Homo sapiens: one gene and its partners. The protein of the gene in region 2 interacts with the protein of the main gene of each other region in a pairwise test. Each region holds a gene or a part of one and is shown on either strand. Other genes may lie near its edges.

Evidence for each region.
Region 1: the proteins of NME7 (region 2) and ZNF526 interact in binary tests that used the Homo sapiens proteins (3 or more experiments, as listed by UniProt).
Region 3: the proteins of NME7 (region 2) and MYOT interact in binary tests that used the Homo sapiens proteins (3 or more experiments, as listed by UniProt).
Region 4: the proteins of NME7 (region 2) and ISY1 interact in binary tests that used the Homo sapiens proteins (3 or more experiments, as listed by UniProt).

The regions. Positions count from the first base shown.
Region 1 is NC_000019.10:42,215,894-42,224,449, forward strand, and holds the start of ZNF526 (zinc finger protein 526), read left to right. Parts: upstream 1-4,418; 5' UTR 4,419-4,494; exon of another isoform or gene 4,495-4,742; intron 4,743-8,321; 5' UTR 8,322-8,412; intron 8,413-8,493; 5' UTR 8,494-8,510; coding exon 8,511-8,556. Other genes in the region: DEDD2 (DNA-binding death effector domain-containing protein 2), read right to left, coding at 787-1,114. UniProt on the Homo sapiens protein: May be involved in transcriptional regulation.
Region 2 is NC_000001.11:169,357,367-169,365,976, reverse strand, and holds part of NME7 (nucleoside diphosphate kinase homolog 7), read left to right. Parts: intron 1-8,610. UniProt on the Homo sapiens protein: Possesses an intrinsic kinase activity. Displays 3'-5' exonuclease activity with a preference for single-stranded DNA. Does not seem to have nucleoside diphosphate kinase activity.
Region 3 is NC_000005.10:137,883,250-137,888,351, forward strand, and holds the end of MYOT (myotilin), read left to right. Parts: exon of another isoform or gene 1-134; coding exon 135-342; exon of another isoform or gene 343-372; intron 373-2,798; coding exon 2,799-2,964; intron 2,965-3,614; coding exon 3,615-3,748; intron 3,749-3,963; coding exon 3,964-4,136; 3' UTR 4,137-4,602; downstream 4,603-5,102. UniProt on the Homo sapiens protein: Component of a complex of multiple actin cross-linking proteins. Involved in the control of myofibril assembly and stability at the Z lines in muscle cells.
Region 4 is NC_000003.12:129,150,288-129,158,897, forward strand, and holds part of ISY1 (pre-mRNA-splicing factor ISY1 homolog), read right to left. Parts: intron 8,273-8,610; coding exon 8,221-8,272; intron 6,634-8,220; coding exon 6,568-6,633; intron 6,389-6,567; coding exon 6,346-6,388; intron 1-6,345. Other genes in the region: ISY1-RAB43 protein, read right to left, coding at 6,346-6,388, 6,568-6,633, 8,221-8,272. UniProt on the Homo sapiens protein: Component of the spliceosome C complex required for the selective processing of microRNAs during embryonic stem cell differentiation. Required for the biogenesis of all miRNAs from the pri-miR-17-92 primary transcript except miR-92a.

The DNA of each region.
Region 1 (8,556 bases), on a different chromosome or scaffold from region 2:
GGCTAGGTTTGAATCCTGGCTCCCACACTTCCCAGCTACGTTCTCTGCAAGCCCCTTCATGACATAACTTCTTACCTCCCTCTCTTCCCTAGCTTGGGTCCCCTCTGCTCCTGCCACACTGGCCTCTGATGATGCCAAACTCATTCCCACCTCAGGCCTTGGATGCTCCCTGGGATTTTCTCCCCTGGGGTCTATGCATGGCTGGCAGTGCAGCCTCAGGGCAAAGCCTCCCTTCACCTTGCTGCTCTCCTGACTCTCTCTATTCCATTACTTTTAGTCTTCCTACAACAGCGTCTAAAAATAAGTTCTCTTATTATCTGATTGCCCCCACTAAACTTAAACTTCATGGAACAAACACCTTGTCAGCTCCATCATCCTGTATCCCTCCTAGGCCCAGCAAACAGGATTGTTATTATACGTGCAAACTGCTTAACTTCTCTGAACTTGTTATTTTCTTGGTTACAGTGAAGACAGTAACAGGACTTCCTTGTGAGATTACTGGGAGACTATAAGGCACTAGTTCATATGAAGGGCTGACAGCTGTGCCTGGCATGAAACAAGCCCTCCGTAAACAGTGGCCAAAATCATCATCACTGATGTGGCCAAATTCCCAAAGCCATGCTTTCTTCCTCTTATGTTGCTCATTGATATTGTGGGAAGAGAGAGTAGCAGAATGGGACATAAGCTGCCTGATATGGCACTGTCCGTATCAGGGCACCAGGGAGGCCCAGCGGGAGCCAGGCCCTTTCCTCCCAGGAAGTGTGACACCCTCCCATTCAACCGTACCTGGCCGGCGCCGCTTGCGCGCCAGGTGCGGCAGCAGGTCGTGGCGGGCCAGCACGCGCAGGAGTTGCCCCAGCAGCCGCAGGTTGCTCTCGTCGCACTGCCCGCGGCGCTCCAGCTCCAGCAGGAGCTCTAGGCCGCTGCGGGCCCGGGCTAAGCCTCCGGCGGCGCCAGGAGCCTCATCCAGCAGAAAGGCCAGGAGCTCCAGCTCGCACTCGGTCAGTTGCCCGCCCACCACCTCGAACATACGGTGAAGCGACAGCATCCCGTAGTAGTCCAGGCACTCATCCTCCTCCCAGCACGGGGCCGGGGTCGACCCGGATAGCGCCATTCCCGGGGGAGGGAGGCGGAACAAGCTCAGAACCCGGCCTAGAACCCACACAGCGGGGAGGGGGCAGTGGTCAGCGACGCGGAGGCCCGAACCCCACACCGCCAGCGCGTCTCCCCCGCCCAATCGCGCCGGGCAGGGCCGCTCCCGCACCCCCAACCGCCTCGGCCTCCCCCTCCCCCGGGAGGGAATGGTCCCGCCCGAGGTCCCCTAAGAACAGGTCGGGACGCCGGAGCCCGCTCGGCTTCTGCCCCCACCACCGTGCTACGTTCGGAGCTCGCCTCCGGACCTGACCAAACGATGCGGCCCAAACAAGCCTCGGGGCCCACCCCGGGGCTCCCTGCTGACTGCCCCTGACTCTGGGTAGGACTGCCCAGACGAGCCCCTTTTCTCCGTCCAGCGGTACCGTCTGATGAGTCCCCCGGCTCTACGCAAGTGGTACCTCCCGAAAGTGACCCTCTGCCCCCTACACAGAGGAGCGACCCAGGCAGCCCCTTTGCTCCACACAGGTGGTACCGTCCGAACCCGACCCCCTCGCCCTGCAAGGGCGGCCCCGCCCGCTCCCCAGAGCCCAGGTGGTCCTGTCTACCCGCCACCAGTCACCATTAGGCCTCTCTGGATCCTCACCAGATTCTGGCGTCCGATGACTCCTGGGCGACGGCCGCAGCCACTTGTTTTGGATCTTTCTGGCACCTTCTCTATTATTACGCCTGCGTCACCTCGCCCCTCCTCCTTCCCCCAACTCGCGCAGGTGCGACCGCCACGCCCCTTCGGCGCATGCGCAGAACGAGGCCTCCAAGCCCCGCCCTTCCTGGGCCGCTTGACCTGCCCCCAACCGAAGCATCTTGGTTCGCGAGTGCTGCGCTTGCGCAGAGCGAGAGCACGCCGCCTCTTGGGCTGTATCTGGTACCCGGTTCCAGGTCCCTACTTCCTGCCCGTGACTCAAGCCACCGGGGCCATGTAGCGCCACGTCACGAGTAGTTGTAACTACTCATCTCATAAACTACAGCCCCCTCCTGATCACGAGCTAGACGCCCACATCACCACTGCCCCTAGTTGCCCGTGGCAAAGTAACACAATCACTACTTTCCCGTCTCCCAGTAAACTCCCAGGCCTTATATGATCTGGTCCTGGGCACTCCTCCATTAGATTGTCCCTCACTTCTAGTGACAACCAGGGATCTACATCTCAACTGTGCTCTCTCGTGATCCCAAATGGAAATCCCGCCCCCCCACCACCACCCCCGCAGTCTATAAGTTCCTTCCCCTGATCAAAACCAGAATTCCCTCATCTCACGTTCAGGACGGATACCTCCTTCCAAGCGGCAACAGAACCCTCCATTCCGACTGTGTACATCTCGATGGCGTCCATCACGACCCCCATCACAGTCAGATGTCTCCACCCAGAGCCAAAACGGCCCCTCCGTAACCCCTTCCAATCTCTGCCCTCCAGGGTCGCCCAGATACCCGCTCCCTAACTTGCAACAACTAGAGAGGGTCTGTCAGGGAGTCTAGGCTGTGGTGTATGCGTGTCCCCTTACCGCGGGGCCTTGGGTGTGACGGTCGCCACGCCCCCCACTTAGGTGACTCAAGGTCAGGACCTGCATGTACTTGAGACAAGTCCCCTCCCTGGACCTCTTCCCACCCCCGCAATTAACTCCTCTTGGGAGTCGGGAGATCTGGGTCCTGCCTAGCACTGGCCCAGTACTGGCTCTGCCTGAGCTGTAGCAGTGAATTCAAAAGAATCGGCTGCGCGCGGTAGCTCACGTCTGTAATCCCAGCACTTTGAGAAGCCGAGGTGGGCGGATCACACGAGGCCAGGAGTTCGAGACCAGCCTGGCCAACATGATGAAACCCTGTCTGTTCTTAGCCGGATGTGGTGGCACGCGCCTGAAATCCCAACTACTTGGGAGGCTGAGACAAGAGAATCTCTTGAACCAGGGAGCAGTAAGCAGAGATAGTGCCACTGCACTCCAGCCTGGGCCACAGGGCGAGACTTTGTCTCAAGAAACAAACAAACGCCAGGTGCGGTGGCTCACGCCTGCATTCCCAGCACTTTGGGAGGCCGAGGCGGGCGGATCACCTGAGGTCGGGAGTTCGAGACCAGTCTGACCAACATGGAGAAACCCCATCTCTACTAAAAATACAAAATTAGCCGGGCGTGCTGACGCATGCCTGTAATCCCAGCTACTCGGGAGGCTGACGCAGGAGAATCGCTTGAACCCTGGAGGCGGAGGTTGCCGTGAGCCGAGATTGCGCCATTGCACTCCAGTCCGGGCAACAATAGCAAAACTCTGTCTCAAACAAACAAACAAGACCGGACGCGGTGGTTCACGCCTGTAATCCCAGCACTTTGGGAGGCCGAGACGGGTGGATCACCTGAGATCAGGAGTTCGAGAGCAGCCTGACCAATATGGCAAAACCCCGTCTCTACTAAAAAATACAAACATTAGCCGGGCGTGGTGGTGGACACCTGTAATCCCAACTACTCGGGAGGCTAAGGCAGGAGAATCGGTTGAACCCGGGAGGCGGAGGTTGCAGTGAGCCAAGATCGTGCCACTGCACTCCAGTCTGGGCGACAGAGTGAGACTCCGTCTCAAACAAACAAACAAACCCTCCAAGAAATCCCTTCCCCTCTCTGGGCCTCAGTTTCCCTACTTGTGAAACAAATGGATGGCAATGGTAAGCTACGGAAGCATAGTCCTGGGCTAAACTCACAAGGGGGCCTGGTAAGTGACTATCATTAAATCAAACGAAGAGTAGGGAGAATAGGAAAGCAATTTAACAAACTGTGAAGGATTCTGTCTTGCTAAGTGGGTTGTAGTGGGCGCCTACAGTGTATGAGCGCTGTGCATGTGTGATATCATCCAATCCCCTAAACAATCTTTGAGGTGGCTGTGACTCAAGCTCACTTCACACCAGTAAAACAGAGGCCCGGAGAGGAGAATAACTCCAAGTGTGTCGGGCTCTAAAGCTGTACTCTCAGAAATGCTCCGTCTCTTCAGCTTTGAAATGACATCTCTGTCAAGGTCTCCCGCCGCCCAGTTCACTCCATGGGCCCAACGCTCACCAAAGGTTGCCCGAGTTTCTCTACAGAACTTGCCGACGCTTAGCCCGGGAGCGACCCAGAGAAATGCGCAGGCGCATCTCCTCGCCCTGAGCCCCGCCCACAGGGCGAAGATGTGTGCGTGGATAACTCCCAGAGCCCCGCCTGTGTGGCAACACGCAGGCGCAAGGTCGCGTGCCCTGCGCTGCAGGCTCTGATTGGTCGCCACGGGTAAGGGCACCGCCCAATGGGAGGTGTGGATAGTGAGGGGTCCCACACGCCTGGAGCCGAGGGTCTGTGTCAAGAGCGGCAGGGGCTGCAGGAGATAAGAGAAACGGGTGAGGGCGCCGCGCGGGGCTGGACTGGGAAGAGAACGCTGGGCGGACGGAGGGGGCGGAAGGAAAACTAAGGGGTCTGCAGGGATCGAAGAGCCTTGGGGCCTGCGCTAGGGCGGGAGCGGCGCGGGCTGGAAGGAGAGCACTCCTTCCTGTGTGCCCTGGGGCTCCTTTAGTGTGCGGGAGCCTACGCTGGAACTCGCCCACCACCCACTGCTGCGAGCTCTCACCCTGCCGAGGAGCTCAGTCTGGTAGGAGACAAGCGTTGTAAAGCGGGAAAGTTGAATTTCCAGGGCCCTAGTGGGTTCCTTCCTGGAAAGACTTACTGATATACTGTGTGAAAAACCCCCATTCTTTCCCTAAGTAGTTCACAATTCAAGAGTGGGAGAAAGAATCGTAGACGAGGAAAGGGCAAATTTCAAGTCTCCCGGGCCACCTCGTAGACATTTATTGGGTACCTGCTTTGTGCAAGCTTTGCAGCAGGCACTGGGCCTCGCCCTAGGGGAGTTCTCTGTTGGAAATGGGGCTGTAATCAAGGAAAAATGGAACTCTCGGGCCCCTGGTTGCCTACTTCCAGGAAGGTCCTTTGTGGAATGGCTGTTGTGTGCAGGGGCCTGGCAACTCAAAAATTAGGAAGGGGATTGGAATAGTAGATAAGGAAAGTTTAGCTCCAGCTCCTTTAGTGAATAATTTACTCAAGGAGTATGTATTGGGCATTAACTGAAAGCAGGGCCCTGTACTGGGCTGTGTGTTTTGGGAATTCACAGTCTAATGGGGAAGTTGGTCTGGTAGAAATGGACTGTGCATAGGGACAGTTAAACTCAGGGTCGGCCAGGCAGTGGCTTACACCTCTAATTCCAGCGCTTTGGGAGGCCTGGGTGGGAGGATTGCTTGAGCTCAGTAGTTCGAGACCAGCCTGGGCAACATAGGGAGACCTCTCTACAAATAATTTAAAAATTAGCCAGGGGCTAGGTGTGGTGGCTCACACCTGTAATCCCAGCACTTTGGGAGACCATGGTGGGTGGATTTCTTGAGGTCAGGAGTTGAAGACCAGCCTGGGCAACATGATGAAACCCCATCTCTACTAAAAATACAAAAATTATCCAGGCGTGGTGGTGAATGCCTGTAGTTCCAGCTACTCAGGTGACCGAGGCGGGAGAATCGCTTGGACCCAAGAGGCGGAGGTTGCAGTGAGCCGAGATCGTGCCACTGCACTCCAGCCTGGGCAAAAAGAGAGAAACTCTGTCTCAAAAAAAGTAAAATAAAATAAATAAAAATAAAAATTTGCCAGGCATGATGGCAGATACCTGTGGTCCCAGCTACTCAAGAGGCTGAGGCAGGAGGATCACCTGAGTCCAGGAGGTGGAGGCCTCAGTGAGCCAAGATCGCACCACTGCACTGCAGCCTGGGCAACAGAGTGAGACCCTGTCTCAAAAGGAGGAAAAAAAAAAAAAAACCTCTCAAGGTCTCACTTCCCAAGGGAGGCTCACTGCAGCCTCCACCTCCTGGGCTCAAGTGATCAAACCACCTTAGCCTCCCAAAGTGCTAGGATTGCAGATGTGAGCCACCACACCTGGCCTGGGAGCATTTCTCAGTCACTAAATATGTACTGTGTGCTAGACATTGTTCTTGGCACTGGACGTGCTTCAGTGATGTGCAGGCTAAACTGCTACCGTCTAGGTGCTTAATATGAGCAACTTTTTTTTTTTTTTTTCCTCCTTGAGACAGAGTCTCACTCTGTCTCCAGGCTGGAGTGCAGTGGCGCAATCTCAGCTCACTGCAACCTCCGCCTCCCGGTTTCAAGCCATTCTCCTGCCTCAGCCTCCCAAGTAGCTGGGATTACAGGCGTGCACCACCACGCCCAGCTAATTTTTGTATTTTTTTTAGTAGAGACGGGGTTTCATCATGTTGGCCAGCATGGTCTCGATCTCTTGACCTTGTGATCGCCTGCCTTGGCCCCTAGAGTGCTGGGATTACAGGCGTGAGCCACTGCGCCCGGCAATATGAGCAACTTCTATATGCAAGGCTGTAAACCAGACTCCACCTGCCCTCTGGCACTAATAGATTAGGTGAAAAAGAGGTAAAGAAGGTGGGTTTGAATTCATAAAATTAGCTGCTAGGCCTGGGAGGGAGGCAGTCATTTGTTGAGTGTACTCTGAGTCCCTGCTGTGTGAAGGGGCCTGGGTGGGGTTGAGCCCACATACGTAGAAGGGAAGATGGGGCATATAGAGGGAAGTTTGAAAGTTAAAATTCCTGTCCCTGCTCAGAGGTTTTGTTGCTGACTGGAGCCTCCACAATGAATCAGACCCACAAACTCTCAGTCCAGTGAGGAACAGTGAGATGCCACCCCAAACTCATGATATTTGCCATGATAGAGGTGGCACAGGATACCATAGGAACCCTGAGGATGTAGAGATGTCAGAGAAGGCTTCACAAAAGGTGCTGGGTAGGAGTTTGTCAGACAAAAAGAGGAGAGAAGTTTCTTGGCAAAGGGAATAGCAACATCAAAGACTTAGGGTCTAAAAACAATCTTTCTGGAGAACTACACAGGGTTACAGCTGACCTTTACAAGTACCAGGGACTTTGTGTCAGTACTACTTTTAGCCCCATTTTACAGGTAAGAAGACAACCTCAGAGGAAGTAAGTGGTAGAGCTCAGATTCAAGCCAAGGGCAGTCTGGTTCCAGGGCCTGTGTTTTTAAACACTTGGGTGTATCTGTGTGTGTATATGTAAGAGGCAGAGGAAAAGCATTGCACAAAGAGAAAGCTGCACGCAGGCAAAGGCTATGGTATTCTCAGAAAAGGTGTGCCTGGCCCTCTCGGTAAAGAGGCCAGGCTGGCTGGGCCGGGTGTGGTGGCTCACACCTGTAATCCCAGCACTTTGGGAGGCCGAGGCAGGCGGATCACGAGGGCAAGAGATCGAGACCATCTTGGCCAACATGGTGAAACCCCATCTCTACTAAAAATACAAAAATTGGCCGGGCGTGGTGGCTCATGCCTGTAATCCCAGCACTTTGGGACGCCCAGGCGGGCAGATCACGAGGTCAGGAGATTGAGATTGTCCTGGCTAACACGGTGAAACCCTGTCTCTACTAAAAATACAAAAAATTAGCCGGGCGTGGTTGCAGGCGCCTGTAGTCCCAGCTACTCGGGAGGCTGAGCCAGGAGAATGGCCTGAACCTGGGAGGCAGAGCTTGCAGTGAGCAGAGATTGCACCACTGCACTCCAGCCTGGGCGACAGAGCGAGCCTCCATCTCAACAATAACAACAAAAAAATACAAAAATTAGCTGGGCATGGTGGCGCACACTTGTAGTCCCAGCTACTCGGGAGGCTGAGACAGGAGAATCACTTGAACCTAGGAGGTGGAGGTTGTAGTGAGCCGAGATTGCGCCACTGTACTCTAGCCTGGCAACAGAGCAAGAGTCCATCTCAAAAAAAAAAAAAAAAAAAAAAAGAGGCCGGGCTGTTGGCCGGGGTGGTGGCTCACATCTGTAATCCCAGCACTTTGGGAGGCCAAGGCGGGTGGATCACCTGAGGTCAGGAGTTCAAGACCAGCCTGGCCAACATGGTGAAACCTTGTCTCTACTAAAATATATATATATATATATATATATATATACAAAAATTAGCCAGGCATGGTGGCACACCCCTGTAGTCCCGGCCACTCAGGAGGCTGAGGCACGAGAATAGCTTGAACCCAGGAGCGAGAGGTTGCAGTGAGCCAAGATTGTGCCACTGCACTCCAGCTTGGGTGACAGACCAAGTCTCTGTCTCAGAAGAAAAAAAAAAAAAAAAAAGAGGCTGGGCTGAGTGGTGTTTCTCTCCTGCAGGCTGCCGTGGGGTGTGTGTAGGCTTCAGAGACATGGGATCACGGAAGACTGAAGCAGAAACAGTGGATTAAGACTTCCTGAGCGATAGCTGGTGAGTAGTGGGATGTGCAAGAGAATTCCACCTCCCCTTGGTTTCCTGCTGTCTCACTGGCTCCTGCCCCTCTTTCTCCAGGCACTGCCTTCCCCACAATGGCAGAGGTGGTGGCTGAGGTGGCCGAGATGCCAACACAGATGT
Region 2 (8,610 bases):
CCAAAACTGAACTTGCTATCTTTCCTCCTGGTTTCTCCTATTTTCACCAAGTTAAATAATGCTACTACTATATTATAACCTAAACTAGAAATCAGAGTTATCCTACATTCCTCCCTCTTCTATTTCTCCCATATTCAGTTGTTCACTAGATCAAATTTTAGTTTGTCATCTCCTCATTTCGTGATTATTTTAATAGTGACTTTTACAGTCTGGTCTGGAAATTCTCCAATCCATTATTTTCTCTGCCACAAGAAGGAATTTTTAAAAACCCAACCTGTTGATTTACTCACCTCCTTAAAACTCTAGATTCCCTATTTCCTACAGTAAAATGTCTAGAATGGCACACAAGTTCCTCCATGAACAAGCACTTTTCTGTCTAGCTTTTGCCTTTCCCTTTCCATACTTAAAAAAAAAAAATTCTCTTGCCTTTTAGCTACTTGCTTTTCATTGAACATACCAAGCAACTTCAAACTGGTAGTATGCCTCCTCTTTCTACTTTGCACTTGCAATTCCTTCTACACAGAATACTTGCACCCTCTTGTTGCTTGCCAAACTTATTTATTCTCCTATTACAGGCCAACGTGTTCTTCTTGCCCACTTCCCAGAAAGGCCAAACATTGAGAATGCAGGAGTTGCAGCAGAGAAAGAGTTTAATGGAGGCAAGGCAGTTGAGTGGAAGGATGGGAAATATTTCTAAAATCCGCCTCCCTGACAGCTTGGAAGTTGTGGTTTTCAAGGATAATTTTGTGGGCAGGTTGGTAGGGAATGGGCGCTGCTGATTGGTTGGGGATGAATTTATAGGTGTTTCCAAACTGTCTTCCTGTGCTGAGTCAGTTGTCTAGGTGAGAGTCATAGGACTAGTAGAGTCAGTTTCTTGGTATGAGGCATGTATCTGGGTGGCATCAGGAGGTTTGCCAGAATGCAGAAGCCTGGAAAATATCTCAAGACCAATCTTAGGTTTTACAATAGTGATGTTATCTAAAGGAGCAATTGGTGAAGTTACAAATCTTGTGACCTCTGGCTACATGACTTCTGAATAGTAAGAAATTATAGAAAAGCAAGGAACAGTAGCTGGTTATTGCTTACCTATGCCTATATTTTAGCAGATTTTAGGTCCCTCCCATAGTCCTAACCTTGCGGCCTTCTATTAGTCTTACAAGGCTGTTTTAGTCCCTAGAGGGGGTCAGTTTTGGAAGGGACTATTACCATCCTTGCTTCAAAGTTAAACTATAAATTTCTCCCATAGTTAGCTTGCCTATGCCCAGGTATGAGCAAGGGCAGTTAGCTTTGTGAGGTTAGAAGCAATATGGAGTCAGTTAGGTTAGATTTCTCTCACTGTTATAATTTTTGCAAAGGTGGATTCACTTCCAGACCCAGTGTAGGTGTCTTTTCTGTGATGCCTTCCTTCCCTACTCAAAGAGGGTTGAGTCGAGTCAGGTGCGGTGGCATATGTGTGTAGTCCCAGCTATTGAAGAGGCTGAGGTCAGAGGATTGCTTGAGGCCAAGAGTTCAAGGCCAGCCTGAGCAACATAGCGAGACCTTGTCTCTAAAAAAGTATAAATAAATACAAATTTAAAATCTATGCAGATATTCAGAGCTTTCCCCTCCACACTGTGAAATCAAGAAAAAAAGAAAAAGAGGTTGATTGTTCATTCTTTTTGTCACCATTTTATGTAGTATACATCTCTCCTATTGTACTTGCCTCATTCGGTTGAAATTATTTGTTTATAGATCTGTCACTCTTACTAAAATGTGAACTGTTGGAGGAATTCATGCTTATGTTGTTCACAGTATTGCCTAGATCATATTAGGCACTCAAATGTTTGCGGAATGAATACAAAATAAGAAAGAATGCGCTAAGTGGTCTGAGAGAATACAAAGTAATAGGGGGCAAATTGTACAATTGAGTCCCTGCTTCTCAGTCAGAGTCAGAAAAGTTGTCATGAAGAAAATGGAATAGAATTTCAATAGTTAGAATTCTATGACCTGTGCAATGGCATAGGGAGGTAGAAAGTGACATTTGCTCAATACTGTTTTTGGTTTTTGCCTGTCTTACATTATGTTATCAAACTTCCCAGGAATGCTAAGGGCAATGAATGAACTCCTGTTCCCACTCCTCCTGCCGGGATTGCAGGCTGGGGCTCTTTCAAATTAGGTGGTCAATGAAGGCCTCTCTGTGGAAAGAACTTTTATATTGAGACCTGCATAATATAATACAAAGTGCAGTGATCTGGAGGAGTCCAGGCCACGCTAACAACAAGATCAAATACCCTGAGGCAGAAAAGAGATTGGTATATTTTAGGAACTTATGGTTCAATGTAATAAAATAATAGAAACTGGGTGGTGGGATGGTGCAGGGGTGGCTGCAGTAGGGAAAATATGGTGCAAAATACCATGAAATGTGGTTAGGGAGGTAGGCAGAGGCCAGACCACACGTATACGTACAGCAGTGTTTCTCAAACTGTACCTGATGACTCATTACTCAAATTTGTGGTATGTAGCCAGCATTAAAAAGATGACATAAAATAGCAACTTAACATATTCACTACATGTTGTAAGGGTAACGTTCATGAACTTTTGTTTAATTGTATATGTATTGGATGTGTACTGGATTCTGATGTAAAATATATTTCTTACTGTGAGTCCTGATCCACAAAGTTCAAGACACAGGGTACTTTGAATAATATATACTTTATTTGTTTTATCTTATTATTTTATTTTTATTTATTTATTTTTTTTGAGACAGGATATTGCCCTGTCACCCAGCAGGAATGTAGTGGTGAGATCATGGCTCACTGCAGCCTCAACCTCCCAAGTTCAAGTGATCCTCCAGCCTCAGCCTTCCGAGCAGCTAGGATAATAGGTGTGTGCCATGATGCCCAGCTAATTTTTTTTTTTTTTCAGAGACAGGGTCTCACTATGCTGCCCAGCCTGGTCTTGGACCCCTGGGCTCAAGTGATCCTCCCACCTTGGCCTCTCAAAGTGTTGGGATTATGTTTATGTTAGCCACCACGTTCAGCTAATATATAGTTTAAAAGGCAAAATAGTTGAAATCTCAAGGCCTGCAGATATTCTTATTCCTCTTTTGATCTAGTGAAAATGTTCTTGTTGTATGGCAGATACAGCTTTGAATTAACGAAAGCCTAAAATTGGCTAGAGTAAAATTTTCAAGTTTCTTTGTGCATCCAGATCACTCTCCTCCATATTTGCCATCAATCATTTATGAGAAAGAACAGGCCTAAGAAACAGATGTCCCTTCTCTGTGTTCAGTCTAGCCACTGTTGTATGTATTGCAGCAAAGGATTATGGCCTCTCAATAAGCAGCTGAAGATGGAGGTTGTTTGCTCTGTTGGTGAGGCTTCCTGACCACTGCAGTTTATCTAATCAGCTTCTGTCTTCATCTAGTTTGTTATAGTTGAGGCTTCCAAATTCTGGAATCACCTTTATATTGTGAAGCAGAGATAGGGAACCATAGTTTAGCATGTTTCTCATACACCTCATTTAAGATGAAGCGTATGCTGGACTCATCAATTTCTTTTACATATTATAAAGAGGACAGAGAAGGTAATTCTAAGATATATTTGACAAAGATATTAATATTATGTATCTTCTAAAATATAGCATTTATTAGAATATCATTACTCCAGATGAACTGTTAGTGTAATAAAGGACTTTAAAGATTATTAGCTATGTTCCATAAGAACTAATCTAAACCTTTGAAGTAAAATGTCTCAAAGTTGTTTGTTTGTTTATGTATTTATTTATTTTTGAGACACAGTCTCACTCTATCACCCTGGCTGGAGTGCAGTGGTGTGATCTCGGGTCACTGCAACCTCTGCCTCCTGGGTTCAAGCGATTCTCCTGCCTCCACCTTGTGAGTAACTTGGATTACAGGCATGTGCCACCATGCCTGGCTAATTTTTGTGTTTTTAGTGGAGACAGGGTTTCACCATGTTGGCCAGGCTGGTCTCGAGCTCCTGACCTCAAGTGATCCACTTGCCTCGGCTTCCCCAAGTGCTGGGATTACAGGCATGAGTCAAAGTTGTTTTTAACAGAGTTTTCAAAGACAGTTTCATAATTACTGAAGAACAAAATTTTATTCCATGAAATGAAATGCTTTTCAGTTTCCAACTTTATGACGTTTCTCCTAATAGCTTTTCTGGTTTTGTTTTTAGCACCTGCCTTTTTTTTTTTTTAGACAGAGTTTTGTTCTGTCGACCCGGCTGTGGAGTGCAGTGGCGCGATTTCCACTCACTGCAACCTCTGCCTCCTGGGTTCAAGCAATTCTTGTGCCCCAGCCTCCCGAGTAGCTGGGACTACTGGCGCATGCCACCACGCCTGGCTAACTTTTGTATTTTTAGTAGAGACGGGGTTTCGCCATTTTGGCCAGGCTAGTCTCAAACTCCTGATCTCAGGTCATCCGCCTGCCTCGGCCTTCCAAACTGCTGGGATTATAGGCATGAAGCTTGGCACCCAGACAGCATCTGCTTTTTAGTCATCCAGAATTCCTTTTGTTACTTGAATTGCTGATTTGGAAGAATTGCAGTTCCAAAGATCCACAGGATTTTATTTACAAAAAGTGAATCAGAAAGCACAGGGCATAAATTGCAGATATGAAACTCTTAAAAGTTTATTTTCCTATATATTGTATTACAAATGCAGTTTAGAGCCTGTTATATTCTTGTTTAGTAGGAAACAGTGGTATTTGGAGAACGGAATAGTAAGTGGTTAATATAATGCCATAATTTTTTTCATGTAGCTTTTTATTTATTTTTGCTTTCCTTTTTCTGCCTTTTTATTCCCAATTCTTTCTCATTCACCAGTTATTCTTCTATTCGAGAAAGTATTTATTGAGTACTTTCCATATACTGGTAACTGGTGGGTATACATTGATTAATAAGATAGCACACAGTGGCCCCTAACTCATGGAATTTATGGAGAAAAACAGATATTGGAAAATAAATTACAAGTATAAGTTGGATTACAAAAGAAAAATGACAAGGTGAGGTGGAAGTTAGTAATAAAATAGAGTGATCTGAACTAGCCTGGGGTGGTGAGGGAAAGTCTCTTTGATGATAAAACTCTTTAATTGTTTTTTTCCTTAGTTTGAGAGAAAAACAGTTTACATGAATAAATAAACGAATGATGACCTCATATGATGATAAGTACTATGAGGAAAATTAAACTAAGTAATGCAATATTGGTTGGTTCCAAGAGCAAGTAGCCTTGAGTAGGACAATCAGGGACGGTCCTCATGAGGATGTGACTTTTAAGCTGAGATGTCAATGATAGAAAGCAGCTTGCCAGGTGAAACCTAGGAGAAGAGCATTCCAGGCAGAGTCAATAGTGAGCACAGAGGTGCATTAGAGGAACAGGAGGGAGATAGTGTGGCTGGGGCCTAGGGAATGAGAGGACAGCTGGAGGAGAAGAGATCTGAGAGGCAGGAAGGAGCCAGGAATACTGAGACTTATGGAACTTGGGAGGGATTTTGGATTTTATTCTAAATGCAGTAGTATTATACATCTTATATATTTTACCTATTCCATCAAAATATTTTATTTTCCTTGGATTTGCCTTAAACTTTTGCCATATTAATTTGGTCTCTTGGTGCTTATTTTTATCTTATCTGTAAAATTTATGATCTTATAAGCTTTGGGAAATATTTTTCTGAGCTTCTTTTGTCTTTGAACTTCAGAGACTCCTAATTTCATCCCTTATAGTTGCCATTTCATAATTTATTTTCCCATTTCTGGACTTATTTTTTGTTTCTATAATATCTACTCTAAGGTGTGGCGAGCAGAGCTACATATTCCAGATGGGTATGCATTATAGTTTCAACATGGGAGTTATGTTTGCTGCTGTGATCTTCACCTAGTACCTTTCTTGATGCTGCTATAGCATATGATTGAAGTATCTTACTTTCCAGAAGTATCTCCAGCATTCCCAATGAACTTTGTATTCACATTTTTTTCAAAAACTGCCTAAACTTCTTCACTTCCAAAGTTGTCAATATTTAAAACTTTCTGTTAATTAGATGTGAGAAACTGTAGCTATTAAAATGTACTGCTTAATTCACATTTATTTTCTGATACTGGACACTTTGCCTTAATAAGTTGCTGTTGTTCTCTCTCCTGACTCATCTTATGTGCTGTGCCTTCTTCATATTTCTATACTCTTTAAAATGTATCTTCATATGCACACATAATGGCTCTAGAGCTCTCTGATAGATGTAAATTCAACTTTTATCCTTTGTTTTCCATAGTTTCAATATTTACATGATACATATATATGCTATATATGTTTTATATATGTTTATAAAGATATTTAACTTATTCTGTTGTAGAAATATAGGAAAATTACTTAGTCATTTTTAGAAATGAGAAAATATAAAAGTAAAAGTAATAAAATTACATTTATCTATAATAACACTGCCTGTATACAATCGCTATTAATATTTTTGTGTAATATCCTGGTCACATATATACTCATACATATATACACACACACACAGAGATACATATCCTTTAAAATATGATTCTATTATATTCATTGTTTAGAAATCTGTTTTATCCCACTTAATATATCTTTTGCATTTTTCCAGATCAGTTTTAAGAACTACAGCCAGCCCTGGGTAGCCATGGGTTCTGCATCCAGATTCAACCAATTGAGGATTGAAAATATTTGAAAAAAAAAAATAACAATACAATGATAAAAAATACAAATAAAAACAAAGCACTATAACAAGTATTTACATAGCATTTGCATTGTATTACGTGTTGTAAGTAATTTAGAGATGAATTAAAATATACTGGAGGATATGCATAGGTTATATGCAAATGCTATATCATTGTATGTAAGGGACTTGAGCGTCTAAGGATTCTGGTATCTGTAGGAGTCCTGGAACCAATCCCCTGCAAATACTGAGGGACAGCTCTACGTTTTATTCTTTCATTTACTCTGATTTAACCAATCCATTTATTAATTTGTTCTGTTAACACAATACTAACATATTTTTGCGAACACATTTTTATAGACATCCATAATTATTTCCTTACAATAAATTAAAAAGGAAATAACTAGGTGCGAGAGGTCATGTGCATTTTTAGGCTTTCAATATACATTGCCAGACTACTCCCAAAATAGTTTTGCCAGTGAATACTCTGCTAGCAGTATACCATGGTGCCTGTTTCTTCTAAACTCTAAACTGGTATTTCTATACATTACATACATATGTCTAACAATAGATTTGAACTTTTAATAAAACTGTCACCTGCTTTGCTCAGAATATTGAGAGAAATATAAATTACTGTATGTTCTATAGATGAAAGGCACTGTTAATACTTACCTACAATATTTCTTTGTAATTATTGTTTTACATCTATTATAAATTGTTAAAATTCAAGGTTTATTGTCTGACTGTAGTGAAGAATATTAAGTTGGCCTTTTTTTAACTATTATTTGTAGACAGATTTTCCAGTCCTCTCTTGTGTACTTATTTTCAAGATGTAGCTTGTTGAAGTACAAACAAACTGATGTAGAGCTAGAAATCTAAAATTTCAGTCTTTATTCCAGTCCTGGCTTAAGCACTTATGAGCTGTGTGTTATGTAATCTTTTTGGATAGTTATTTTCTCATCCATAAAATCAAAATAATACTTTCTGTTTAGATTACCTTAAAGCATTTTTTGTGAAGATCAAATAAGTTAATATGAAAGTAATTTATAAACTGTAATATACATATGAAATGTGTTATTTTCATATTAACCAGATTGCTGCCTAATGAGAAGATAGTTGAGGAAAATGGAAGAGATTAAAATATCAACCTTCAAAAATAAATATTTGAGGTTAATGGTGTTATGCAATTTTGTGGCTATTGAAAAATTTACTTTTATATATTAAATTCCCTCTTCCTAAATTTCTCTTATAGATTCATTTTCCTAATGGAAATAAGAAAAAGCTGGTAAAAGGGAGGGAAATGGCAGAGATTGGTCTTGAGACCAGTTTCAATAATGGTCATATACTTTTGTGGATAGGGGCAGCTAAACATGTGTGATATGTATTTAGCAGGTATTAGGTGTGAGATCCCTGAATATCTACTCAATTTAAATGGATTAGCTGGGAACATTTACTTTTATTGCTGGTCATGTGAGATTTTATTATTCAGTAATTTGACTGTGAAAGTACAATGAGACCGTTCAGACCCAGTCTGTTTCTTGCCACTTAGACTCAGAAATTCGGCTCTGGAAAAACTGAAAATCCCTTCATCTAGTGGCAAGTACAGTTTTATCATTTATGTTAAACCATATTGCCTTTTAGGTACCTTATTGGATTTTACTGCATGCACTGAGATCTCTAAAAGGTGAATATCTGTCTATCTTAGATATCTGAATATTTTTCATAATTAAAAATGTTCAAGTTTTTATGCAAAGAATGAATGGCTTCTATAATATTATGATCACTTTTTCTAGCATTTCCACATAAAAATTAGTATTGGCCTGATGATTTTATCTTGTCTCCCAATACCCTTAACACCTAGGTTGTGGCATGCATTATTAGAACACTTCTAGAATCAAACTTGACATAATAAGCATTTATATTCAGATATAGAGCAG
Region 3 (5,102 bases), on a different chromosome or scaffold from region 2:
TTTGAGCTCTTGCTTTGCATTTCAATCGCAAACCCACTCAGATACGGGAACTGTTTAAATTCATATATGGACAAATAGGTTTCAGTGATGCAATACTTTAAAATTCTGCCATCTCCTTGTGTTTTTCTTTCTAGGTGAGTGGACTGCCAGCTCCTGATGTGTCATGGTATCTAAATGGAAGAACAGTTCAATCAGATGATTTGCACAAAATGATAGTGTCTGAGAAGGGTCTTCATTCACTCATCTTTGAAGTAGTCAGAGCTTCAGATGCAGGGGCTTATGCATGTGTTGCCAAGAATAGAGCAGGAGAAGCCACCTTCACTGTGCAGCTGGATGTCCTTGGTAAGCCTCCAAAGAGACCCTTGAGAATTCCTTAAAATCCAGAAGTATTGAAAAAAAGAAAGTATTTTAAAAGAAAAGCCCAGCAGACTTCATATTTAAGGTTAATGTCTATACAACCTATTGGAATGTCCATTTTTATCTACAAACCACAGGAAAAAATATATATATATACACACACATACATACATATATAGATATGTGAAGGAAAGTCAGTGAAACTAGAATGACAGATCTATCACCAAAGCTTTTCTGGAAAGAAAATAAATCATACAATTTTAGACAAACCAAATAATGAAGCATAAGCATTTCTAGACGTAACTATAGAGTCTCAAAATGAAAATCTTAGTCTAATCATTTCTCTGGTCTTTGTTTCTCCAAAATGAGGATAATAAAAATAACCAATCTGACTCACAGTATTACAGAATTATCATAATCTGTCAAACGTTAAATACATAGTTTAAAAGTGAAGAGTAGGCTGGGTATAGTGACTCAGGCCTGTAATCCCAACACTTTAAGAGGCGCCAAGGTGGAAGGATCACTTGAGCCAAGGAGTTTGAGACCAGCCAGGGTAACAAATAGCAAGATCTTCTTTGTCTCTACAAAAAATAAAAAAATTAGCTGGGCATAGTGGTGCACACCTATAGTCCCAGCTACTAGAGAGGCTAAGGCAGGAGGATAACTTGAGCCTGGAGTTTGAGGTTTCAGTGAGCTATGATTGCACCACTGTACTCCGGCCTGGGTGACACAGTCAGACCTTGTTTAAAAAAATTTCTTAAAAAATCAAGAGTAAATATCAACTTTTAGCCTTAGACTATGTCCTTTTTACTAGGAAACTAATGTCTAATTATAACCAAAACAGGCCTACTTGCTTTAGAAAACAGGTATGGCTACATTTATGTCTCAAATCTGTCTTAAGTAGAGCAGTTCTTATAAAACTGGTGTCTGGTTTTTAAATTTTACACTTTAAGTGCTTTAAATATACAAGTTGAGTATCCCTAATCCAAAAATCTGAAATCTTTAAGATGCTCCAAAATCGACATGACACACAAAGGAAGTGTTCATTAGAGCATTCTGGATTTTCAGGTTAAGAATGCTCAACAAGTATAACGCTAATATTCTAAAATAAAAAAAAAATCAGAAATCCAAAACACTTCTGGTCCCAAGCATTTCAGATAATGGATACTCAACCCATACCATATTTTTAATACTTTAAGCCATTGTATATTGCATAAGAGATATTTTGCTATAATTCACTATTTATTATACAGAAGTTTGATCAGGTTAAAGGATAAACTATTTTCTTGAGTTTATATTCTACCCAGATCAATACAAAATCTTTAAGATTATTCAATAATATACCAAAGGGCCTCAATCTCAGGGGAAAAACTAGTGGGCTGGAAATTTTCAAAAACACATACAATTTAAGTGATTAAAGTTTAGACAAATCCTATTTGTACCAATGGCTTCAGAAATACTACAATAGTAGAGCTGAAAGAGATCTTGGCTGCCATCCGTTTAATCTCATTTCTCCTTCAGAAAAACCAGGGTTATGGTACTGAACTATCGTTTCCTGTCTCCCCTCAGGTAGCTGAAAATAAGGTCATAATAATTACTGATATTCCCACATTCCTTCAGAGTTTACAAAGTATCTCTTTGTTTATTATCTCATTTGTTCCTTACAATTATTTTGTGTGGTAGACACAACAGTCACTACTACCGGGATTTTTTTTTTATAACAATAGATAAAACTGAGACTCAGAGAAACTAAACAAAATTTTACCAATTTGGCATGGCTCATGGAGCCAATAGGTAATTTGAACCCAAGCTGTCTGATACTCTTTCCATCACTCATGCTGCCTCCCTGTAGATGAGATGATAAAGAATATAACTTAAATTTGGGCCAGGCACGGTGGCTCATGACTGTAATCCCAACACTTTAGGAGGCTGAGGTGGGCAGATCACTTGAGGCCAGGAGTTAGAGATCAGCCTGGCTAACATGGCAAAACTCTGTGTCCACTAAAAAAAATACAAAAATTAGTTGGGTGTGGTGCACACCTGTAATCCCAGCTACTCAGGAGGCTGTGGCAGGAGACTTCCTTGAACCTGGGAGGCGGAGGTTGCAGTGAACCAAGATCACGCCACTGCGCTCCAGCCTGGGCAAAAGAGCGAGACTCTGTCTCAAAAAAAAAAAAAAAAAAAAAAAAAAAAAAGAATATGACTTTAGTTTGAATGAAATATAATTATCTGATTATCAATTCAATGCATCATTACATTAGAGTTTAGAATTCTGAATGGTATAACAAAATAGTACTGCATGTCTTTTTTACTGAGTTTCTTTCTGTTGCTGTTGCTTTTTAACATTTTAATATCAACATACAAATTTCATAATACCTTGGTTTGATTTAATACCTTTTTTATAATATTTCAAATACTTGAATTTTTGTATTAATATATAGCAAAAGAACATAAAAGAGCACCAATGTTTATCTACAAACCACAGAGCAAAAAAGTTTTAGAGGGAGATTCAGTGAAACTAGAATGCCAGATCTCGGCTATACCTCCACCAAAGCTTTTCTGGAAAAGAAATAATGAAATGGTACAATTCAACACTGACCGAATAAGGTAGGATATGTATTTCTAGACTTACTATAGTTTATTTGGGTGAATCCAGTTATACTTTTTAACATGCATTATAAATGGCATGCATTTATCTCAATTTGTCTAGTTTTTAAAACACTAAAGAATAATATAATAAAATATATATTAGATAAAAATGTAAGAAAACTTCAGTAAGCCAGATTCCACTAATCAGAAATGTAAGGCATAAAGTAGACTAGGATTTATCTTTTTATCAACGATGATGAAAGATGGCCCAAGGAAATAAATGACATAAACAAGATTAAAGGGGGATGTTTTCTTTTCTTTTCTTTCTTTACAAAAAGCTTCAGCCTTTATTAAACAAAGGAGGAGGTAGGAGACAGATAACGGAACAGGTCAGGACCCCTCCATTCCCCTATACATACGCATAAATACAAACACAGACACACCCGAGTGAATGACAGGGACCATCAGGGGACAGATTGAAGAGCAGAGGGAGACAGCACCCAAGGGGGGATGTTTAATTCAAGAAAACCAATAGCTATTTGGCAATAAATAGATACAGCTTTGGAATTTTCAAATGTTTTTTTCTTCCTAGTCTGACTGTTGGTCAGAGACATCCACTTCACAGAAATAATTCCTGTACTTTCATTTCTTAAAAATTTTTATTTCAGCTTATATCAAGATAACACTGGAAGAGTTACTTTACTGATAAAAGATGTAAACAAGAAAGATGCTGGGTGGTATACTGTGTCAGCAGTTAATGAAGCTGGAGTGACTACATGTAACACAAGATTAGACGTTACGGGTATGTCATACTATTAACCAAAGTATTATAAGGGATTTAACTAGGAAGATTTAATAAGAAATGAAAATCCCAGCAGAGTATAAAATTTGAGATATTTTCCCCATATATAATCAGTTTTGGTTCTTTTTTCTTTTCCTGTCTGATAATAAATACCTAGTGTGACCAATTTGGTTAGAACAGGTTTTCTGAATCAACTTTTATGTGATCTATTTCAGCACGTCCAAACCAAACTCTTCCAGCTCCTAAGCAGTTACGGGTTCGACCAACATTCAGCAAATATTTAGCACTTAATGGGAAAGGTTTGAATGTAAAACAAGCTTTTAACCCAGAAGGAGAATTTCAGCGTTTGGCAGCTCAATCTGGACTCTATGAAAGTGAAGAACTTTAATAACTTTACCAACATTGGAAAACAGCCAACTACACCATTAGTAATATATTTGATTACATTTTTTTGAAATTAATCCATAGCTGTATTAACAGATTATGGTTTTAATTAGGTAATATAGTTAATATATATTTATAATATTATTTATCCTTTGACTCTTGCACATTCTATGTACCCCTCCGATTTGTGAAGCCTACAGGAAATCTGGGTATATGGATTTGTAACTGCAGAAGACTATCTTAAAATACAGGATTTTAACATTTAAGTCATGCACATTTAACAATTACAGGTTATAAATTAGTATCAACTTTTTAAACACATCTAATGCTTGTAATAACGTTTACTGGTACTGCTTTCTAAATACTGTTTTACCCGTTTTCTCTTGTAGGAATACTAACATGGTATAGATTATCTGAGTGTTCCACAGTTGTATGTCAAAAGAAAATAAAATTCAAATATTTAAAACGGACTGTCTCCTCTTCACAAAAGTCTAGATCTGTAAAATAAAACTCCACTCAGCAAAACCTATGAATAACAAGTTCCAAAAGAGCAATGTTATATTCTAGAACAGTGTGAAGCTCACTTACAGCTCAGCCAATTCCTCTAGAAACTAAGCTAGACTTGCCATGGTTTGCACTTCAAAGGCAATCACAAGAACTTAAATCATGACTGAATCTACTGAATTTGTGATTTTGTTTTAACCAAACAGGTTTCTAATTCTTCAGGATTTTTCAGTCTGTTATGCTCAAAGGAATAAGAATAGTCTCTAGAGATTACCTGCTTAATTCTCATAGTTAATGTAAATTTGACAGCCCGGTAGTCCCAGCTGCTGGGAGAGGTTGAGCTGGGGATCCCTTAAGATCAGGAGTTTGAGGCCAGACTGGGAAATATAGCGAGACTCCATCTCTAAAAAAAAAAAAATTATGTAAATTTGATTACCTATATATGGGTGTTTTTCCTCTAATAATT
Region 4 (8,610 bases), on a different chromosome or scaffold from region 2:
CTGTACTGTGTTAAGTCTTCCCATACAACAGCACAGTGTATCTCCCCATTCATTCGGGTCTTCTTTGGTTTCTTTAGTCATCGCATCCTAGTTTTCAGCATACAGATCCTGACTGTATTTTGTTAGATTTATACCTAAGTATGGCCAGGCGCGGTGGCTCATGCCTGTAATCCCAGCACTTTGGGAGGCCAAGGCGGGTGGATCACGAGGTCAGGAGATCGAGACCATCCTGGCTAACATGGTGAAACCTCGTCTCTACTAAAAATACAAAAAAAATTAGCCAGACGTGGTGGTGGGCGCCTGTAGTCCCAGCTACTCGGGAGGCTGAGGCAGGAGAATGGCATGAACCTGGGGGGCGGAGCTTGCAGTGAGCTGCACTCCAGCCTGGACGCCAGAGCAAGACTCCATCTCAAAAAAATAAATAAATAAAATTAAAATTAAAAAGATTTATACCTAAGTTATTTCTTGTGTTTTGGTGCTTTTGTAAATAGCACTTTAAAAAAATGTTGTATTTCCAGCTGTTCAATGTTAGTATATAAAAATATAATTTTGAAGCTGAGCATGGTGGCTCACACCTGTAATCCCAGTACTTTGGGAGGCTGAAGCAGGCAGATATCACTTGAGCCCAGAAGTTCCAGACCAGCCTAGCCAACATGGTGAAACTCTGTCTCTACTAAAAATACAAAAATCAGCCAGGTGTGGTGGTGGATGCCTGTAGTCCCAGCTACTCGAGAGGCTGAGGCAGAATAGCTTGAACCTGGGAGGCAGAGGTTGCAGTGAGCCGAGACTGGGCCACTGCACTCCAGCGTGGGTGACAGAGGAAGACTCTGTCTCAAAAAAAAATATATATATATATAAATATATAAAATATATAAATATATAAAAATATATATAAATATATAAAAATATATATATGAATATATATGGGGTGTGTGTGTATATATATAATTCTGTATATTGAACTTCTTTTCTGTGATCTTGATAAATTCACTTATCCATTTTAGAAGTCTTTCTGTAGGTTCCTTGGGATTTTCTACATAGAAAATTATGTAGGATTTTAGGTGGGCATGGTGGCTCATGCCTGTAATCCCAGTACTTTGGGAGGCAGAGGCGGGTGGATCACCTGAGGTTGGGAGTTCGAGACCAGGCTGGCCAACATGGCGAAACTCTGTCTCTAGTAAAAATACAAAAATTGGCCGGGCATGGTGGCACATGCCTGTAGTCCCAGCTACTCAGGAGGCTGAGGCAGGAGAATCGCTTGAACCCAGGGGACAGAGGTTGCAGTGAGCCGAGACTGCACCACTGTACTTCAGCCTGGGTGACAGAGCGAGACTCCATCTCAAAAAAAAGAAAATTATATAGGATTTTCTATGTTACAATAAAGACAGTTTTACTTATTATTTTCTAATCTTTATGCCTTTTATTTCCTTTTTTTACTTTACCGCACTGGCTAGGATTTCCAGCATCACGCTGAATATAGTGGTGAGAGTGGATGTCTTTGCCTCGTTCCTGATCTTAAGAGGAAAGCATTCAATCCTTCACCATTAAATAGTTTATTGGCTATGGGTTTCTTATAAGTACTTTATCAGGGCCGGGTGTGGTGGCTCATGCCTGTAATCCCAGCTCTTAGGGAGGCCAAGGTGGGTGGATCACCTGAGGTTGGGAATTCGAGACCAGCCTTGCCAACATGGTAAAACCCTGTCTCTACTGAAAATACAAAAATTAGCTAGGCGTGGTGGCTGGCACCTGTAATCCCAGCTACTCGGGAGGCTGAGGCAGGAGAATCACTTGAACCTGAGAGGCGGAGGTTGCATTGAGCTGAAATTGCACCACTGCACTCCAGCATGGGTGACAAGAGCAAAACTCCGTCTCAGAAAAAAAAAAGAAGTGCTTTATCAGGGTAAAAAGTTCCCTTTTATTCCCAGTTTGCTGAGTTCTTATCATGAATAAACGTCTAATTTTGTCAAATACTTTTTCTGCATCTACTTAGATCATACAGTTTTTCTTCTTTGGAATGACACAGTGAATTAACTTATTTTTGAATGCTGAATCTACTATGTTTTTCCAGAATAAATCCTCCTTAGTTGTGATGTATTATCCTTTTTATACATTGCTAGGTTTTGTTTTTTTTTTTGAGACGGAGTCTCGCTCTGTCGCCCAGGCTGGAGTGCAGTGGTGCAATCTCGGCTCACTGCAAGCTCCGCCTCCCGGGTTCCAGCGATTCGCCTGCCTCAGCCTCCCAGGAAGCTGGGACTACAGGCACCTGCCACCACGCCCGGCTAATTTTTTTGTATTTTTAGTAGAGACGGGGTTTCACCGTGTGTTAGCCAGGATGGTTTCGATCTCCTGATCTCACGATCCACCCACCTTGGCCTCCCAAAGTGCTGGAATTACAGGCGTGAGCCACCGCGCCCGGCCATACATTGCTAGGTTTGATATGCTAATGTTTCATTAAAGATTTTTGTCTATATTCATAGGAAATATTGTCAGTAGTTATTTCTCATAATATCTTTTTCTGATTTTAGCATCAGGGTAATGCTGATACTAAAATTCACAAAATGAGTTACAAAGTGTTCCCTCTTCTTCCATTTTCTTGAGGAAACTATGTGGAGTTGGTATTATTTCTTCCTTAAATATTTAGTAGAACTGACCAGTGAAGCCATCTGGGTCTGGAATTTTCTTTTAGAAAGGTATTTAGAAATGAATTCAATTTCTTTCCATCTTTTTTTTTTTTTTTTTTGAGATGGACTGTCGCTCTGTCACCCAGGCTGGAGTGCAGTGGCCCAATCTTGGCTCACTGCAACCTCTGCCTCCTGGGTTAAAGTGATTCTCCTGCCTCAGCCTCCCAAGTAGCTAGGATTACACGCATGCGTCACCATGCCTGGCTAATTTTTGTATTTTTCATAGAGACAGGGTTTCACCATGTTGGCCAGCCTGGTCTTGAACTCCTAACCTCAGGTGATCCACCCACCTCCACTTCCCAAAGTGCTGCAGTTACAGGCGTGAGCCACGGTGCACAGCCCCAATTTCTTTAACAGATATAGGACTACTCAGGTTTACCATTTCTTTTTGAACTGTGTCTCTAAACAGTAGAATTATTGACACTGTAGTTTATTTAGGATAATTATTTGTAGGAGGCTTAGCACATCCCTGGCCTCTACCCACTATGTGCCAGTAGCACCCTTCCAGTTGTAACAATCAAAAATTTCTTCAGGGCTGGGCGCAGTGGCTCAAGCCTGTAATCCCAGCACTACGGGAGGGTGAGGTGGGCAGGTCATGAGGTCAGGAGATCGAGACCATCCTGGCTAACATGGTGAAACCCCGTCTCTACTAAAAATACAAAAAAAAATTAGCTGGGCATGGTGGTGGGCGCCTGTAGGCCCAGCTACTCAGGAGGCTGAGGCAGGAGATTCGCTTGAACCCGGGAGGCAGAGGCTGCGGTGAGCCAAGATCATGCCACTGCACTCCAGTGTGGGCAACAGAGCAAGACTCTGTCTCAAAACAAAACAAAACAAAACAAAATGAACTATTTCTCGGCCAGGCACTGTGGCTTACACCTGTAATCCTAGCACTTTGGAAGGCCGAGGAGGGTGGATCCCCTGAGGTCAGGAATTGAAGACCAGCCTGTTCAACATGGTGAAACCCTGTCTCTACTAAAAAATTACAAAAATTTGGCTGGGCGCCATGGCTCACGCCTGTAATCCCAGCACTTTGGGAGGCCGAGGCGGGCGGATCACGAGGTCAGGAGATCGAGACCATCCTGGCTAACACGGTGAAACCCCATCTCTACTAAAAATACAAAAGATCAGCCAGGCGAGGGGGTGGGCGCCTGTAGTCCCAGCTACGCGGGAGGCTGAGGCAGGAGAATGGCGTGAACCCCGGGGGGCGGAGCCTGCAGTGAGCTGAGATGGCGCCACTGCACTCCAGCCTGGGTGACAGAGCGAGACTCTGTCTCAAAAAAAAAAAAAAAAAAAAAAATTAGCCAGGTATGATGGAGGGTGCCTGTAATCCCAGCTACTCGGGAGGCTGAGGCAGGAGAAATTGCTTGAACCCAGGGAGGTGAACCCAGGGAGAAATTGCTTGAACCCAGTGCAGTGAGCCGAGAACTCGCCACTGCACTCTAGCCTGGGTGACAGAGCAAGACTCCATCTCAAAAAAAAAAAAAAAAAAAAAAAAGGACCACTTCTCTTAAGTGAGCTTTGGCAGTTTGTGTCTTGTAAGGAATTGACCTATTTCATCTAAGTTGTCAAATTTATGGGCATAACATTGTCTGTAATATTTCCTTATTATCCTTTTAATGTATATAGATTCTATAGTAATATTCCCAATTTGGTTCCTAATATTCTTAATTTGTGTATATTTTTTCTTGGTCAGTCTGACTAGAAGTTTATCAATTTTATTGATCTTTTTTTTTTTTTTGAGACAGAGTCTCGCTCTGTCTCCCAGGCTGGAGTGCAGTGGCGCGATCTCAGCTCACTGCAAGCTCCACCTCTTGGGTTCATGCCATTCTCCTGCCTCAGCCTCCCAAGTAGCTGGGATTACAGGCGCCTGCCACCACATCCAGCTAATTTTTTGTATTTTTAGTAAAGACGGGGTTTCACCGTGTTAGCCAGGATGGTCTCGATCTCCTGACCTCGTCATCCGCCCGCCTCGGCCTCCCAAAGTGCTGGGATTACAGGCGTGAGCCACCACGCCCAGCAATTTTATTGATCTTTTCAAAGAACCAGCTGTTGGTCTGTTTTCTCTATTCATCTTGTTTTCAATGCTATTGATTTCTTATCTTTACTATTTCCTTCCTTCTGCTTGCTTTGGGTTTAATTTGCTCTTCTTTTCTAATTTCACAGGGTAGAAGCTTAGATCACTGATTTGAAAACTTTCATAATTTTCTATTATTTCAGTGCTATATATGTATTTTTTGTTTGTTTGTTTGTTTGTTTGTTTTGAGATGGAGTCCTGGAGTGCAGTGGCACGATCTTGGCTCACTACAACCTCCGCCTCCCGGGTTCAAGCGATTCTCCTGCTTCAGCCTCCTGAGTAGCTGGGATTACAGGCACATGACACCACACCCAGCTAATATTTGTATTTTTAGTAGAGACAGGGTTTCACCATGTTGGCCAGGATAGTCTCTTATCTCCTAACCTCGTGATCCACCCGCCTCGGCCTCCCAAAGTGCTGGGATTACAGGTGTGAGCCACCGCACCAGGCCAGTGCTATACATTTTTATCTAAGCACTATATCCCATAAATTTTTTCATCCCCTAAATTTTGACATTACGTTTTCACTCTAATTAAATTCAAAATATCTTCTAATTTCTTTGCTGTTTCCTCTCAGACACATGAATTATTTACAAATATGTTGTTTAATTTCCAAATATTTAGGAATTTTTCAGATATGAATCTGTTGTTATAATCAGAGAAAATACTCTGTGTAATTTCAATTTTTTTTTTTTTTGAGATGGAGTTTCACTCTTGTTGCTGAAGCTGGAATGCAATAGTGTGATCTTGGCTCACTGTAACCTCCGCCCGTTAGGTTCAAGCGATTCTCCTGCCTCAGCCTCCCAAGTAGCTGGGATTACAAGCATGCGCTACCACGTCCAGCCAATTTTGTATTTTCAGTAGAGGTGGGGTTTCTCCATGTTGGTCAGGCTGGTCTCAAACCCCAGACCTTAGGTGATCCTCCCTCCTCGGCCTCCCAAAGTGCTGGGATTACAGGCGTGAGCTACTGCGCCCGGCCTCAAATATTTTAAATTTGCTAACATTTGTTCTGCAGCCCAGAATATGTTTTATTTTGGTGAATGTTCCACGTGCTCTTAAAAAAGACCATGTATTAGGCCGGGCATAGTGGCTCATACCTATAATCCCAGCACTTTGGGAGGCTGAGGCGGGCGAATTGCAAGGTCAGGAGATCAAGACCATCCTGGCTAACATGGTGAAACCCTGTCTCTACTGAAAGTACAAAAAAATTAGCCGGGCGTGGTTGTGGGCACCTGTAGTCCCAGCTATTCGGGAGGCTGAGGCAGGAGAATGGCGTGAACCCAGGAGGCTGAGCTTGCAGTGAGCCGAGATCGCACCACTGCACTCCAGCCTGGGTGACAGAGTGAGACTCTGTCTCAAAAAAAAAAAAAAAAAATGACGTATTCTTTATTGTTAGGTACAGTGTTGTGAGACAGAGTATTCTACAACTTTCAACTACATCAAACTGACTGATCGTATTGATTGGCTCTTCTATGTCCTTACTGATTTACTATCTACTTGCTCTATTGATTATTTTGAAAGGAGTATTGAAGTCCTCAAGTCTAATTGTGGATTTGAGAATCAAGCACTTTAAAGGAACAAGTTTGCTTACCATTCTGAATCTGAGCCACTTTTTTAGAGATCTCTCCAATGATCTATTAAAAAAAAGTAATACATTTTAATAATTTTTGAATATGTTAGAAAGCACAGAAAAACTATAATTCAAAATTAGTATTTAAAAATACTTAGACTTTTGGTCTAACAGTCATTTAGATAATAAGAAGAAATGAGAGACTTGTTACTTCTACTGAAATCAGATTTACCCAGAACATACCTGTCGTCTCCACTTCTCAGCTTTAGGCAGTTCAGTACATTCTGAGGCCAGAAAGGGTCTTCGTTCCTAAGGAGAAAAAAATAACACATTTCCATTATACTATTTACAAGTTTCAAACAACATTCAGAACTGATTCAGGCCTTAAGCCTAAATCATCTAATGGCCTAAAAACATTTGAAGTTTTCATTCCAGATGATCCTCATCAAGCCTTAAACCTCATTCTACAATCTCTCCTTAGGAAAAACATTGATTGCATTGTATTTAATATTGGAAAGAACTTAACTGTCCTGCAATAGAGAGACAGCCAAACTAGGTTATAGCTATTTCATGGCATATTTATAGTACCTTAAGAAACAATGTCTATCAGTGTTTAAAACAAACATACATAAATATGGGTGTATTCATATACATGTGCGTATATAAAATTAAAAAAAAAATCCAAAGAATGGTATATATTATCTCTAATTTGGGTGAGTCTCTAAGAAATGAAATAATTTACCGGTTTCAGCTTACAGCTGTTCTCCACATCATACTCCAGTCCCTATTCAATATTAGAGCTGGAGTAATAAAGGACCCAGTCATCAGGCTGGGCACGGCGGTTCATCTCTGTAATTCCCACTTTGGGAGGTCAAGGCAGGCAGATTGCCTGAGGCCTGGAGTTTGAGACCAGTCTGGCCAACATGGTGAAACCCCATCTCTACTAAAAATACAAAAAAATTAGCTGGGTGTGGTGATATGTGCCTGTAATTCCAGCTACTCAGGAGGCTGAGGCAGGGGAATTGCTTGAACCAGGGAGTTGGAGGTTACAGTGAGCCAAGATCACGCCACTGCACTCCAGCCTGAGCGACAGAGCGTCCATCTCAAAAAAAAAAAAAAAAAAAAAAGGGCCGGGCCCAGTCATCATAATACAGAAGAAACTGAAAAACAAGCAGCCAGATCCATCACCCTGCCTCAGCTATGGGGAGGTATTGGAATTCAAGTGTACAGACTCTCAAGAGCGTCAGCAGGTACAGATAAGAAATAGGAAATTCTGAAGTTTGAAGTCTGTTGACCTGGAGTGCAGCAGCGCGCTCTCGGTGCACTGCAACCTCCGTCTCCAGGGCTCAAGTGATTCTTCTGCCTCAGCCTCAAGTAGCTGGGATTACAGGTGCCTGCCACCATGCCCAGCTAATTTTTGTATTTTTAGTAGAGATGGGGTTTCACCATGTTAGCCAGGCTGGCCTCAAACTCCTGTCCTCAAGTGATCCACCCCCCTCAGCCTCTCAAAGTGCTGGGATTACAGGCGTGAGTCACTGCACCCTACTTTTTTTTTTTTTTTTGACAGGTTCTCACTGTGTCACCCAGGCTGGAGTGCAGTGGCATGATCATGGCTCCCTGCAGTGTAAGACTCCTGCATTCAAGTGATTCTCCTGCCTCAGCCTCCCCAGTAGCTGGGACTACAGGCAGGCGCCACCATGCCTGGCTAGGCTAATCTTTGTATTTTTTGTAAAGAAGGGATTTTGCCATGTTGCCCAGACTGGTCTCAAACTCCTAGACTCAAGTGATCCACCCACCTCAGCCTCCCCAAGTATTGGGATTACAGGCATGAGCCACTGCACCCAGCCTGCATTTATTCTTGATACTTTACAATTCATGAGGAAGATTTACACCAACCTTCACTTTTCCCTCTTCCAGCTGAGCCTGGCGAAATCTTGCTAAGGCCGTCCTACCAGCGATATAAAAGATAAAAGACTCCATTAGATCCTGCTCATACAGACTTCTCATTACCCATGTTCCTGTATGGGGTAGATCTGCTTATGACCATATTTAATGTCATTCATATACAAATATTGTAATTAAGAAACCACAGAATAGTTAGGGATTTCCATGTTCTCAGGAGTAGGAATTATGAGGCAATTTGTATTCCTGAACACCCAAGAATCTATTTTACTTACACTACACATAAGGACTGTGGGAAACTCTACTTATCAGACCACTGTGATAAGCAATACATCCAGGTGTTAAAAGACTAACATCATGGTGTGTTCCCTGGCTGTCACTCTC